Regions from separate parts of the Homo sapiens genome. Here region 2 is linked to region 1. Evidence: fine-mapped expression QTL. A gene starts in region 1. The other region holds a variant in brackets. All regions are shown on one strand. Distances are from middle to middle.

Evidence for each region. PIP is the estimated chance that this variant, and not a neighbour inherited with it, causes the effect. A credible set is the group of variants that fine-mapping cannot tell apart.
Region 2: its variant is the best candidate, but not a certain one, in a credible set for the expression of OGDH in whole blood (TOPMed, PIP 0.71).

The regions. Positions count from the first base shown.
Region 1 is chr7:44,604,967-44,607,874 of GRCh38, forward strand. It overlaps OGDH (oxoglutarate dehydrogenase), which reads left to right and starts at 1,661. Exons shown (of 23, transcript NM_002541.4): 1 at 1,661-1,687. RefSeq lists enhancers at 1,221-1,820, 2,072-2,635, 2,311-2,650 and a silencer at 1,861-2,090.
Region 2 is chr7:44,641,284-44,644,191 of GRCh38, forward strand. All of the region lies in intron 2 of OGDH (oxoglutarate dehydrogenase), which reads left to right. Among named protein-coding and RNA genes, the nearest start is that of OGDH, 36 kb to the left of the region's middle. The variant T/A (reference allele first, on the strand shown) is at 1,653.

The sequences.
Region 1 (2,908 bases):
ACAACCTCATGCTCAATGAAATAAGGTGGACACAAAAGGACATATACATTATGATTTCACCCACATAAAGTAATTGAGTAATCAAATGTATAGAGACCGTATAATAGAGGTTACCAAAGGAGAGAAGGACAGGAGGAGAAGGGGAAATAGGAAGTTATTGCTTAATGGTTACAGAGTTGCTGTTTCAGGTGATGAAAAAGTTTTGGAAATTGAGTGGTGACGGTTGCATAATATTGTGAATGTAATTAATGCCACTGAGTTATACACCTAAAAATGGTTAAAATGGCATTAAAAAAAAAAAGACAGTATCTTGCTCTCTGGCCCAGGCTGGAGTGCAGTGGTACAATCATAGCTCACTGCAGCCTCAATCTCTCAGGCTCAAGAGATCCTCCTGCCTCAGCCTCCCAATTAGCTGAGACTACAGGTGAGTGCCACTACACCTGGCTAATTTTCTTGATTTTTTAGTAGAAATGAGATCTTGCTCTGTTCCCCAGGCTGATCTGGAACTCCTGAGCTCAAGCGATCCTCCCGCCTCCACCTCCCGAAGTGCTGGGATTACAAGCGTGAGCCACTGCACCCAGCTGCAAATGTTTAGTACATACATTTTTACCGTAATTTATTTAAAAAAAAAAAAGGAAAAAAGAATACAGAAGTTTGTTCCTTGGTCTCTTCACCTCTTCCAGTCTCTAGATCCTTGTCACATACATTACCCTAACTTTGTTCTATAATAAGCACTTATACGCCCCCTTTTTTTGTTTGTTTTTTGAGACGGATTTTCGCTCTTGTTGCCCAGGCTGGAGTGCAATGGCACGATCTCGGCACACCGCAACCTCCGTCTCCCGGGTTCTAGCGACTCTCCTGCCTCAGCCTCCCGAGTAGCTGGGATCGCCACCACGCCCAGCTAATTTTTGTATTTTTAGTAGAGACGGGGTTTCCCCATGTTGGTCAAGCTGGTCTCGAACTCCTGACCTCAAGTGATCCGCCCGCTTCGGCCTCCCAAAGTACTGGGATTACAGGCGTGAGCCACCGCGCCCGGCCTTTCCCCAAATTTTAATACTTTAAAATAGGGAACATCTTACAATCAACAGGTTGTGACAGGTTAATTAGCCACGTTTTATCTTTGATAGGTAGCTCTAAAGTCAAGAAAACCCAGGCAAGATCCCGGGCAAGATCCCAGCACTGCCAACTGTCATTTGTAGACCGGGGATAGGAACACCTGTCTCACAGATTGTTACACAATAGCGCCGGTGAAGCGCTTGTCACAAAGCCTGACCCAGGACAATCTCAAAAACGGAGATTCTGTTATTCAAATTGTTTATTTTTGTGCGCTAAGTTTCACATCAACCCAACTATCTCTTGATAGGTTCCTACCAGGCGCTAGAGATATCTTACTTTCAGAAATTATTTATGATAGCAGAAGCCGCTGGAAGTCCATAGACAACCTCATCTCTCTAGCGGAGCAAACAGCTGGGCTCCAGCTGGCCCTGGCTTCTGCAACTGCGCAGTCGGCGCTGTGACGCCCGGCGCGGCTCTGTGACGTCACGAATCGGTCCTCTGTAAGAGGGGAGGGCATTCTTCTCCAGGGGAGGGCTACGTGTTGACGCCATACGCCGGGGCGGGGCCGAGAGTTTGGAGCCCCGGAGTGGGGTGTCGGCGCCTCATTCGGGTGGAGCTGAGCCGGAGACAGGTAACCGTGCGCTGTCGCCGCGCCCGTCCCAGTGCCGGGTGTCGCGGCGCTTGGCGGCCCGGGGTTGGAGATCGCGGTAAAGGGGGAGGCCGCCGCGCCCTTGGTGCTGCGGGCGCCGCGGTGACAGGGGAGTGGAGCTGGATGGAGTGGGGCTCACGGAGGGTGGTAGGAGGGACGGGACCTGATGGATGGCCGTGGCAGCCAATGGAGCCGCGGGGCCTGCCCGGCGGGCGGAGATTGGCGGGTACGGGCGGGCTCCGAGGTCGCGCGGGGCGCGGAGCGACGCGCCATTGGCGGTGGGCGAGCGGGGGGCGGGCGCGGCGGCGGATGTGAGGGAGAGGGCGGTGCGTCCGCAGGGGTGACCCCCAAGGTCGCCGCGGGCGTCACGTGGTTAGGCCGCTCTCCGACGGCGTCCTTCCCGACCGGGACGCACTCTCCTTCCCGCCTGTGAGGACCGCGTCGCTTTGTCCGAAAGACAGTGTGGCCTGCTCGAGTTGCGTCGGAGCATCTGGCTTTGGGGTGGCCCTGGGTGGGACTGCCTGTTTGGATTACCGCGCAGACCTTGGCGCCGCCCCCACACCTGCTGCCAGAAGTTGGGTCGAACAGATTGACCGAGATGAAGCTTATTTCTCGTAGAAACATCTTTCAAGCACCATTTTCCCTCGAAAATATATCAGACATTGGATATGAGTTGTAATCTACTGAGATTTAATAGAAAACTTGCCGCGCCCTCGCCCTGACCTGGGTGCGTCCCACCTGCCATCCCCATCCCTTTGCCCAGAACATAGGACTTCGTGTTAGGGTTTCCTTGTGCCTTGTCTTGCAGTCCGTACTTTGAGGCTGATTTCCAGGTACACTGCTCTGAACAGCTGGGTTTAGGATGGGTGGCATGGGATAAAGCCTTTTTTTGTAAGGCAGCACTAGTTGCAACAGTCAAACTGTACTTTGCCGTGTAGACCTAGGAGAGTATGTAACACTATTGTAGTTTTGTAAATTAGCTGAGGACTGGATCTTGGGAAGTTGAATAAAGATCACTGTATGCTCATTTTTTGTTGTTGTTGTCTTGTTTGAGATGGAGTCTCTGTCGCCCAGGCTGGAGTGCTGTGGCGCGATCTCGGCTCACTGCAACCTCTGCCTTCCTGGGTTCAAGTGATTCTCCTGCCTCAGCCTCCCAAGTAGCTGATATTACAGGCACGCGCCATCACGCCCGGCTAATTTTTG
Region 2 (2,908 bases), 36 kb after region 1:
GGTGCGATCTCAGCTCACTGCAACCTCTGCCTCCCAGGTTCAAGCGATTCTCATGCCCCAGCCTCCCAAGTAGCTGGGACTACAGGCCTGCACCACCACACCCAGCTAATTTTTGTATTTTTAGTAGAGACGGGGTTTCACTATGTTGGCCAGGCTGGTCTCGAACTCCTGATCTCAGGTGACCCACCCACCTTGGCCTCCCAAAGTGCTGGGATTACAGGCATGAGCCACTGCGCCTGGCCTGATTAGGTTTTACGTGACAGTGGTAGCTTGCTGTTGGTTCTTGCTGTGCAGGGGTGGGATACAGCCAGACTGACTCCTGCTCAGTTTCCTGCTGTATTCAAGGGGTTTCTCCTTTTAGGTCAGGTCCTCAGTTATTGGAGGCCTGGGTAGAGGCCAAGAAGTGCAGTCATTGGTCATCCCTGCTTTCACAATGAAGATGGATGTCCAATGCATGTGGTCCCCAGTCATCTCTGCTTCTAGAATGTATGGAGCTCTCAGTCCTGCTGGAAAAGCTCCATGAAGTCAGAAGTACCTGAGGGTGTCCAGTGTATTTGTGCACAGCCACCTTTTAGATCCCTGTGTCCTTGACAGAACCAGTCATGGACTGAGTGGGAGGCAGCCTTTACTTTGCCTAGGGAGTTGATGCTGAGACATCCTCTGTTTTCTCTCCTAAGAGTAAGTCAGTTTTTTCCTCTGGTGGAAATACTGCCTTTTCTCATGTTGGAGGAGAACACTGAGTTTTCATGAGAACCGATTTAATGGAGGAAGGTGAGAATCTCTTTGGAGATTCCAAACCCTGGGTTTCTTTAGCAAACATTTTGATAGCATCTGTTGAAAAGGAAAGTTTAGGCCCAGATGGTGGCTCATGCCTATAATCCTTGCACTTTGGGAGGCTGAGACGGGCAGATCAGTTGAGCTCAGAAGTTCAAGAACAACTTGGGCAACATGGTGAAACCTCATCTCCACAAAAAAATATTTAGTAAAAAAATTAGCCATGCGTGGTGGTGCGTGCCTGTGGTCCCAGCTACTCAGGAGGCTGAAGCAGGAGAATCACTTGAGCCCCGGAGGTGGGGGTTACATTGAGCCAAGATCGTGCCAGTCTACTCCAGCCTGGGCAGCAGAGCCAGACCCTGTCTCAAAAAATAAAAAAGAAAGAAAAGGAAAGTTTGCAGCCTTTTTTCATGTTCCTGATTGTTGGGTTACATTTGTATAAGATGCTTCTGTAATAGGTTTTGTGGGAGGTGCCAGAAGAGAACCCCAAATCTGTCTTCTACATCAGACAATACACCAGAAATTAACCAGAAAGGTAAAAACCGTAAAACCTCAAATAGTTTGATTTGTAAAAACATTTTAAAGGCCAGGTGCAGTGGCTTACGCATGTAATCCCAGCACTTTGGGAGGCCAAGGCGGGTGGATCACAAGGTCAGGAGTTCGAGACCAGCCTGGCCAACACAGTGAAACCCTGTCTCTACTAAAAATACAAAAATTAGCTGGGCATGGTGGCAGGCGCCTGTAATCCCAGCTACTCGGGAGGCTGAGGCAGGAGAATCGCTTGAACCCAGGAGGCAGAGGTTGCAATGAGCCGAGATTGCACTACTGCACTCCAGCCTGGGCAACAGAGCTAGACTCTGTCTCAAAAAAAAAAAAAA[T/A]TTTTAAATATAATTCACATAACATAAATGTAATTATTTGGCCTGGTCCTGGTGACTCACAACTGGATTCCCATCACTTTGGGAGACTGAGGCAGGAGGATTGCTTGAGGCTGGGAGTTTGAGACCAGTTTGGGCAACAGAGCAAGACCCTGTTTCTTTAAAAAAAAAAAAAAAAAAAAAAAGTCATTTTTTAAGTGTACCATTCAGTGGAGTTTTGTTTTTAACAGATGGGTTCTTGCTGTATTGCCCAGGCCAGCCTTGAATTCCTAGGCTTAAGTGATCCTCCTGCCTCTGCTTCCCAAGTGACTGGGACTACAGGCACATGCTACTACACCCAGCTACAGTGGTTTTTAGTATGTTCACAATACTGTGCAGTCACATCTCTGGTGGTTGTTTTCTTTAAGTTATTTTTTCTGAATACCAAAAAATACATGCTTATTATAGAATGTTTTAAATATTCTACAAAAAAGAAAAAGGGAAGGAAAAAAAAAGTATTCCACAAAACTCCCCTCAAAAACAGATTTCACTGAGAGATCAGACTCCCCTGCATGAGGCAGATGGTCCAGGCCTGTGCATTATCATTGTGTCTTTTCTAGTTTGTGTCTAGCAGCAGTATATAGCAGTGCTCTTGGTAGTGGGACCATCTGAGTGACGTACATCTGTGCCCTAGCCAGCATTATAAAAGAACCTGTCTGAAAAAAACAGAAGACCTTAAGGACCAGCATACTGGATTCTGTAGCCATCTCTACCTTCTGGTCTCCAGACTCAGACAGACCCATTTGATATCCAGCCATGTCCCAGACAAGGAGCACATCTGGGTGGCATCTTGTTAGAAGGAGAATGCAAAGATCTCATAAAGTTTTGCCTTGCCTCTCCAAGTTTTTCAAGACAGTCTTATCAGAGTTTATTGATGGAAGAATTTTAGAGGCTGGAAAAGGTATTGCAGAAAAGAAAAACAATGTTTCTATTTTTTTTTTAAACTGATGTTTTGCCAGGCGCGATGGCTTACGCCTGTAATCCCAACACTTTGGGAGGCCAAAGCAAGTGGATCACTTGAGGTCAAGAGTTTGAGACCAGCCTGGCCAACATGATAAAACCCCATCTCTACTAAAAATACAAAAATTATAAGCCTGGTGGCGTGCTCCTGTAATCCCCGCTGCTCAGGAGGCTGAGGCAGGAGAATCACTTGAACCCGGGAGGTGGAGGTTGCAGTGAGCCAAGATCATGCCACCACACTGCCTGGGCAACAGAGCGAG